2 separate regions of the Homo sapiens genome follow, and region 2 is linked to region 1. Evidence: fine-mapped expression QTL. A gene starts in region 1. The other region holds a variant in brackets. All regions are shown on one strand. Distances are from middle to middle. Region 1 holds the start of TMCC1 (transmembrane and coiled-coil domain family 1). Region 2 has its middle 24 kb from the start of TMCC1-DT.

Evidence for each region. PIP is the estimated chance that this variant, and not a neighbour inherited with it, causes the effect.
Region 2: its variant is the best candidate, but not a certain one, in a credible set for the expression of TMCC1 in whole blood (INTERVAL, PIP 0.82).

Annotation. Positions count from the first base shown.
Region 1 is chr3:129,891,720-129,896,100 of GRCh38, reverse strand. TMCC1 (transmembrane and coiled-coil domain family 1) reads left to right here and starts at 2,390. Exons shown (of 7, transcript NM_001017395.5): 1 at 2,390-2,607. TMCC1-DT (TMCC1 divergent transcript) reads right to left here and starts at 2,230. Exons shown (of 3, transcript NR_037893.1): 1 at 2,174-2,230. RefSeq lists a silencer at 2,133-2,862 and enhancers at 2,224-3,015, 3,016-3,808.
Region 2 is chr3:129,915,490-129,919,870 of GRCh38, reverse strand. No RefSeq gene overlaps it. Among named protein-coding and RNA genes, the nearest start is that of TMCC1-DT, 24 kb to the right of the region's middle. The variant C/T (reference allele first, on the strand shown) is at 2,400.

The DNA.
Region 1 (4,381 bases):
TTCTATTGCAAACTCTCCACCTGTGGCTTGCCTTTTCATTTTCTTAATGTTGTCTCTCAAAGAGTACCAGTTTTTAATTTTGATAGAGTTCAACTTATCAATTGCTTTCTTTTTTTTTTTTTTTTTTTTGAGACAGGGTCTCACCCTGTCACTCAGGCTGGAGTGCAGTGGCGCCATCTCAGCTCACTGCAACCTCCGCCTCCCAGGTTCAAGTGATCCTCCTTCCTCAGCCCCACAAGTTAGCTGAGACTGCAGGTACGTGCCAACAAGCCCAGCTAACTTTTGTATTTTTTGTAGAGATAGCATTTTGCCATGTTGCCCAGGCTGGTCTTGAACTCCTGAGCTCAAGTGATCTGCCTGCCTTGGCCTCCCAAAGTGCTGGGATTACAGGTGTGAGCCAGGCCATGAATCACTTTTTATGGTTCATATTTTTTGTGTCCTAAGAAGTCTTTGCCTATCCCAAGGTCACAAATACTTTTTCTATGTTTTCTTCTAAAATTTTCTTTTATAGGTTTAGCTTTTAAATTTAGGTTTATCATCCATTTTGAGTTACCTCAGGTGGCTCCTTCAGTGCTTCTGAAATCTATAAATGCATCCTCCACCAACCTCAAATCTAAGTAAACCTTGCCACCTCCTTCTCCTTCACTCCTCATTCAATTTATTGCCAAGTCCTGTCCATTTTACCACTACATTAGCACTCTTCTCTGTCACTACCCTCCTACTTTGCCTTGACTATGTGGCCAGTGGCCTCCTAACTGGCTTCCCGGCCCCAGCTTTGAGACTCCCATCAGACCACTCTTCACGTTGCTATCTAAGTAACTTAAAAACAGACATAATGGGCTGGGGGCAAGGTGGCTCACACCTGTAATCCCAGCACTTTGGGAGGCCGAGGTGGGTGGATCATGAAGTCAGGAGATTCAGACCATCCTGGCCAACATGGTGAAACCCCGTTTCTACTAAAAATACTAAAAAAATTAGCTGGGTGCAGTGGCGTGCACCTGTAGTCCCAGGTACTAGGGAGGCTGAGGCAGGAAAATCACTTGAACCCGGGAGGCAGAGATTGCAGGGAGCCGAGATCGCGCCACTGCACTCCAGTCTGCCTCTCAAAAACAAAAAACAGACATAATGATCAAGTTATTTCCCCTGCAACCCTGCTGAAAAAAACCTGAATAGCTTCTACCAAGCACTCAGATTAAAGTCCCAAATCCGGCCGGGTGTGGTGGCTCATGCCTGCAATCCCAGCACTTTGGGAGGCCGAGGCGGGCAGATCACAAGGTCAGGAGTTCCAGACCAGCCTGGCCAAGATGGCGAAACCCCATCTCTACTAAAAATACAAAAATTAGCCAGGTGCGCTGGCGTGCGCTGGTAGTCCAGCTACTCCGGAGGCTGAGACAGGAGAATCGCTTGAACCCAGGAGGCGGAGGTTGCAGTGAGCTGAGATCGAGCCATTGCACTCCAGCCTGGGTGACCTGGGTGACAGAGTGAGACTCTGTCTCAATAAATAAATAAATAAATAGGTCCCCAATCCTCACCTGTTCTCGCCTACCTCTTCCCACACTCGCAGTCTACTCCACATTCAATATTCTTTAGCGCTCCCCATTCTGGCCATGCCAAGACCTCACCCCTTGGAGCAACTAACTCCTCCCAACTCAATTCCTCAGATTCTACCCTCTTCATCCTCAACTAAATCAATTCCCCCATAAAGATTCTCTTAGTACCATATACCTCTCAGAAGATTTTTACTAATTGAAAACTTAATTTTGTCTGATTCTCCCATGAATGTTTTCCTTCTCCACCAGATCTCAAACTTCATGAGACCAGGGACTCCGTTGACCCCATATGGTACTCCCAGCTCCTTGAACACGGAAGAAGCCTCATTACATAAGTAATAAAAATAAAATAAATTAGGAAAATGGGAATTATAAAGGGATGGGCTGGTGGCTGCTTACAATCCCTTCAGTGGTAATACCTGGTGCAAAGTAATGAGTCTCTGCCCTTTTCCAAGCAGCCTGCTAGGTGGAATGAAGGAAGGCCTTGCGACTCAAATAGGGAGAACAAACGTGTGATCCAGAGCGGCGGGCAGAAATCCGACGAAACCCCATATTACTCAGGGGCGTTGCTCCTAGGGCGAGGGTGGCTCGGTTCCTAGAGCTTTTTGAGAGGAGGAGCTTACCTGGAGCAACTCAGCACTACCTGCAGCGGCGCAGCTCAACCAGCCCAGAGACCGCGTGGGAAGGCGGGCTAGGGGAGGGGCCACGCCTTCCAGGGCCCATCCCCGCCCCTGCGGCGTGCGCGCGCCCGTCCGCCCGCTCCCTTGCGCGTGCGCCGCCGGCCGGGGGCGGAGGTTGTGGGCGGTGGCGGCTGTGGCGGGGGCGCGCGCGCGCTCGCTCTCTCGCGCCGGTTCGCCCTCCCGCGCCGGGGCTGAGGCGGCGGCGGCGGTGGCGGTGACTGAGGCGGCGGCGGCTGAGGCGGCGCGGGGGGAGGGTCGGGAGGGGGGGGTGGTTGTGGGGGATGGACCGGGTGCGGCGGCCGCAGTGGAAGGAGCAGGCGCTTGAGCTCGAGCGACGGCGCTGGCGGAGACGCCGGCTGCTCCTCCCCTCCCCGCCGGTGAGTGAGCGCCCCCGCCCCGGACGCTGGCGGCGGTCGCGGCCCCCTCACGGCCCTCCGCGGTGGGTGGGGACAGTCGTGAGGGAGCGTGGCCTGGCGGCGCAGCGGACGCGGGCCTGGCCTCCCGCTCGCGGCCTGTCGGGGCTGGGACCTGCCGTCGCCCCCGTTCGAGGTTGAAGCCCCGGGCCTAGGACTCGACCCCCAGCATCCCACGGGGCCTCTTTCCTTTCCCGGCTCATTCCGCTGTCATTTTGACCTGGGGTTCCCCTCCAGCCCCTCGCCTCGTTCCCTTCCCAGCATCCCAGGGCCGAGGTGAGGGAGGGGCGTGTGAGAAGTCGGGCCGAGGCCCGAGGGACTGTTTAGGAGCCGGTTCCCGTCGGAATCTGGGGTTTTAGGAGCCCTCGATCGCCATGGCGTCCCAGAAGTTAGCCACCAGGACTCAGCCATTTCCACCTGAAACCAGTTTTGCACCTATTGTTTTGATTTTGAACTGTCTTTCGAGGGGAGGAGGGAGCCCGGCGTACTGGGGAGAATATGTAGTGGGAGGTGGGATGTGAGGAGGAGCTGGCTGGGCTTGGTCTCGGCCTCAGGATGCCCCCTGTTAACCCCTGTAGGATAGGGGAAAGAGGTGCAGCGAGTTGCACCTTCCCTAAAGGGCCAGAGATTCGTTTATAGCTTGCGAATCTCTGCTTTTTCAGCCTCGGTAAAGGGGTATCATTTGTGGTTGGTTTGGTTCGTCCCTTAACAACATTCTTGGTGAGGAATCCCCAGGTGAATCTGCCACGGAGTGAAGCAGCCCACTTGAGCTGTTGGCTACCCCCGGCCCCCGCAACGCCCGTTGGCTTTTGTGACACGTTACACGTTAGTGTTGGTAGAGCCTAGCCGTCAGAGGTACCTGTACCATAAGCATCTCTACGAAAGGTGTGAATTCCTAAATTAGCTTATTCTGTTCTTAAAAAAAAAAAATCCAGGGCATAAATATCAGATAGCTGCTTTAAAATAAAACAAAACTTTGATTTGTTCCAGGAGGTAGATACATTTTTTTCTCTGTATATTAGGAGATTGAAACTCAAATTGTGAGTAGGTGGTAGTTTTACTAGTGTCATGTGACAAAACGATGCTTATAGATGGGATTTTAACTTAATAACCCTGTCCTCTACCAACAGAGTTGGCTTGTATTTTTTTGCAATCACCCACTCTCTGGCTAGTGTAGAAAGATTAAAAAGCTGCTTCTGGTCTGTGGGTGGTAACCTTTTAATTTCTGAAGAGTTTTGAGCTGCTTATAGATTGCTGATCAGCAGCATAGGAAAATTTTAGACGTTAAAAATTCATTAGCATGTGATGTAGAACTGTTATAATTATGAGCATTGATTAAGATTTGGTATGGTGTAGGTGCTGTGTACTGTGTATAAGAATGAGATTTCTCAGAGCATTTGCATCTTAAGATAAACAGAAGCACAGACCGCTGACAGTGTTGGGACACCTTGCAGAAGGACTCTTTTATGAGCACAAAAGACCTGTAGTCTACAATTTGATGAAGAACCCCAGTGCCCTAGACTAGTTGGTGACCAACCACCATTACTTTAAACTGGGCCTTCTTGATAGTAGAATATTTCCCCTTTTCTGCAAGACTGCTTATGCCTCTCATAAATGTGCAGAACATATAATGGCTCAGGGCTTAGGTTTAAGCTCCTCAGAGTGGCATTTATGGATCATTCATTAATTCATCAAATGTTTATTGAGCCCTTACTTTGTTCCAGGATGTTTTCTAAGT
Region 2 (4,381 bases), 24 kb before region 1:
GGTCTGACTTTCTAGCACAGATCTATTGTACTAGAATATGTAATTGGCTTACTTACATTTTTGACATAACAAGCATATGGATTCCCCCTCATTACTAAGAGTCCTAATTGTAGCCTCTTAGCTTAATTATAACCTGTTTAATACTAAATTCACTTTCTCTGTGAAATCTCTCTTCGTGGCGCTCCCCTTGAATTCTTGTTCTAAGAGAGAGGGAGAGAGAGAAAGAGAAGGAGAGAGAGAGAGAGAGAGAGAAGGAAGGAAGGAGAGAAGGGAGGGAGGGAGGAAGAAAGGAAAGAAAGAAGGAAAGAGAAAGATCAGCTTCTTTTCTGCCTTTCCTCCTTACCCCCTTTCCCTTTTCCTTACCTTCCTTTCCTTCTTTTTCCTTTTCCTTTCTTTTATTTTCTTTCTCTCTCTCTGTTTCTTTCCCTCCCTCCCTCCCACCCTCCGTCCCTCCCTCCTTCCCTCCTTTCCCTCCCTCCCTCTCTCTCTTTCTCTCTTTCTTTCTTTCTTTCTTTTTTTCTTTCTTCTTTCTTCAGTATTCACACCTGGGGGACCCTTAACCCCAAAGTGGATTTTATGGACAACAGCACACTGGGGAGACAAGGAGCCCCACAGCACTCCCACCCTCTCCCCAGGTCACTTCTTGCTTCCTGGTCCTGCTCTTTATTGGGGAAGGAGAATCGTATTTGACCAGTGGAACTCCAGGACAGTCCCTGGCCACCATCAGTAGTGGGCAGGGTCACAGCATGTTCTAGGCTGTGCACACTGAGCCACCGGCCATGCACAAGGGCAGGGCCTTCTGGACCTCCCTCAAACTTCTTAATAACACATGAGGAAGCTCCCTGATGGGAGCCACTCTGACCCCATGCCACTCTAACCCCAGCACAGTCTGGTTCCCAGGACTTCAGGATCCTCCTGGAGACCTCTCAGCATGATTAACACAGTCAGACGAGACCTGAAGGGGCCGCTGGTCCTTCTGAAAATGCTCACTGGGCAGTGTGAGTGTGGGGAGGCCATGCACAATGTGTGGGACTCTGCCTTGCACCTGCTCAGAGCCTCAGCCCTTCAGAGCCACTGGTAATGATTTTCTGTGGGTGGGGTCATCCTGATACTTCTCTGAGGTCTCTTTTCCTTTCAGTTTTTCTGAGTAACTGAGAGGATCACATGACTGCATACTGCCTAAACTAGGGTGTGCACAGCCCCCATTCTGTGCAGGGAGGGCGCAAAGCAGCAGATTGCCTGTGACTCATCTGCCACCTTTCCAATGCTACTACAAAATTTGCAAGAAACGGTAGTGTTATCAGGAATCACCTTTATTTAAAAAGATAAAGCAGGATTGCTGGGCACACGGAAGCGTGAGCATATCGCCCGGCTTCTCTCCACAGCTGTCGCCCGGCTTCTCTCCACAGCTGTTGGCGTCCACTGTCAGGTTTCCATGTTCTTGGACCTCAGGGCCTTCATCCTCTCCAATCTAAATGCAGAGAGACATTTGATACGGACTCTCTCAGTTGTTTTGCAAAATGCAACACACTCTCATTGACTCTGGTCACCCTGCTGTGCGCTAGATGTCAAAACCTCTTCCTCCTGTCCGGACTTTGGTCCTTTAACCGACAACCCTGATGGTCTGCAGGTCAGTGCTGGGTGGGGGATGAAGCAAGGCTTTCTGGAGGCCAGTGTGCTGAGCCCTGCAGTGTGAGGAGAGGTCGCCTAAGTAAGTAGGGACAAGGGCAGGAGGGTAGCCTCTGCAAAAGCTCAGGGATGACCGAGGGTGTCTTGCTGGAGTGATGTGCTAGTCTGAAGGTAGGACTGGGGCCAGGTTGGGAGAGCTCGAGTCCCAGGACAGAAGCTGAGCCTGTATTCTGAGGGCCGTGGGCACTGTGGAATAGTTCTGAGCCCCCTTGCTGGGCCACAGCCTTCAAACCCTGACTCTGCTCCTGACGTGGGAGTGGGCTCAACTGAACTTTACCACCACACCAGCCTCACTGCCTCCAGTCTCCCCCACCCACACCCCTCCATTCAGGCTCCCAAAGGGATCCAAGGGAAAGCCACCTCTGGGCTCCACCACCCAGCTGGTGGCCCTGAGAGCTTCAGAGGGAAGCCCTTCTCCTTGTCCACCAGGGCTCACCTGGGCAGCCCCACAGCCCTGCCTTTCAGACCACCCCATGTGCCCAGGTGGGTCACGTGATTCTTGAAAACAAAATGCTTGTTCCTTGGTGCCACAAGGAAAAATTAGCATTCAGACAAAAAGTTTTCTCAGCAAGGCAATTTTACTTTCTGCAGAAAGGATGCTGCCCATCAGCAATTTTGCCACAAGAGCACGATGAATAAAGAAAGGCAGGAATATTTATCCCTTACACACTGGGTCCTTACTGCTGTGTCCTCTCTTCGTTGCTTGGAGA[C/T]GGACCTCACAATCTAAGCTAAACTCAATTGGCTAACAACTTAAAACTTTCCTAAATAGGTAAAGGCAATGGAGAACAAAAGGAAAAGAGGAAGTTGCTTGCAAAAGGTCTTAGAAAAGTAATAACATTTCCAAATAAGGAAGGAAGAGGAAGTTAGTCTTTAAAAGAAACTATTACTTTTAACATTTATTATTTATTCTTTAACAAGAAGGGAAACTTTGAAGAGGAACTTTTTATTTTCCACACCGTCATGTTTCCTACACACCGTCCCCACTGCCTAGAGTTCCCCCCTTACTCTCCTGCACTGAGTGACTTCCTGTCCCTTCAGTCCTAGCTGAGATATCCGGTACTCTGGGGAGCATCCCTGAGCCCTGGACACAGAGGAGCCCCTTCTGCCCTGGATCCCAGAACCACTTGTGCTTTCCTCCTATCACAGTGCAGAAACTCCCACCACACACACACACAAACACAAACAGACACACACACACACACACACACACACACACACACAGACACCGGCACACATATTCACACACACTTGCCACCATTTGGGGACATTGATTACTGCCTGCTGGACCACCCCTCTCCCACCCCAGCCTCTCAGGGAGCCCCAGGCAGAGGTGCTGCTATTAATAGTAGGGGCCCTGTAGGTGCATTGGAGGTAGGGAAGGGAAGGGCTCCCCAGGAATACCCCTGCCTGGATGACAGCCACCCCATGGGGGGCACGGCCACCAGGAAACTTAGGTCTTGAATAAGCGGAGGCAGCAGGTACAGGCTGGAAGGATAAGGTGGGGCCAGATTCCCAGGGTCCCTAAATGCCAGGATGAGGTGCTTCTATTGTCTCCTGGGGTGCAAGCTTTGGAAGAGGCGGGGCCCATGGGGGCAGCACTGGGGAGGCCGGCCTGGAGGGACATGGCCACTGAAGGGGTGCACCTGTCCCTGTCCCTGATGGCTCAGCCCTCACTGGCACCAGGAATCCCTTGGTGGGGAATGGGGGGTGTCATGGCCTCCTGCCTGGTGCCTGAATACCCCGACATGTTCCACCCAGGATCCTGCACTTCTTCCTTCTTTTGTTTTTTTTTTTGTTGTTGTTGTTGTTTTCAAGACAGAGTCTCACTCTGTCATGCAGGCTGGAGTGCAATGGTGTGATCTTGGCTCACTGCAACTTCCACTTCCTGGGGCCAAGCTATTCTCCTGCCTCAGACTCCTGAGTAGCTGGAATTACAGGCGTGCACCACCACGCCCAGCTCATTTTTTGTATTTTTAGTAGAGATGGGGTTTCACCATGTTGGCCAGGCTGGTCTCGAACTTTTGACTTCAAGTCATCTGCCTGCCTCAGCCTCCCAAAGTGCTGGGATTACAGGCGTGAGCCACCGCACCCGGCCTGTACTTCCTCCCTCTGCCCTAATGTCCCCCAATGATTGCTGAGTCACTCAGGCTTCCTCCCCTTGAAGTCTCTGCTCCCCTCAAGCTGCTCCCCCTTGCAGACTCCCCCCTTGTTTTTGTCACCCACACTGCACACCTTCTTGTCATTGACTCACCCTTGCTTTCCTTTTTTTTTTTTTTTTTTTTTTGTGAGACAGGATCTTGCTCTGTCACCCAGGCTGGAATGCAGTGGCACGATCATAGCTAACTGCAGCTTCAACCTCCCAGGCTCCAGTGATTCTCCCACCTCAGCCTCCTGAGAAGCTGGGACTACAGGCTCATGCCACCACACCTGGCTAATGTTTTGTATTTTTTATAGAGACAGGGTTTTGCCATGTTGCCCAGGCTGGTCTTAAACCCGTGGGCTCAAGTGATCCTCCCGTCTTGGCCTCCCAAAGTGCTGGGATTCCAGGCGGGAACCACCTACTGACTGTCTTCACATAGGCCATCACCAAATTAACTTCCTCTGGGGCAGGACAGGTGTGAAGTCGGTGAGGGGAAGCAGCAGGGTGTGAGGAACACAGATGGAAGTGCTGTGCTAAACGGACCTGGCCCCT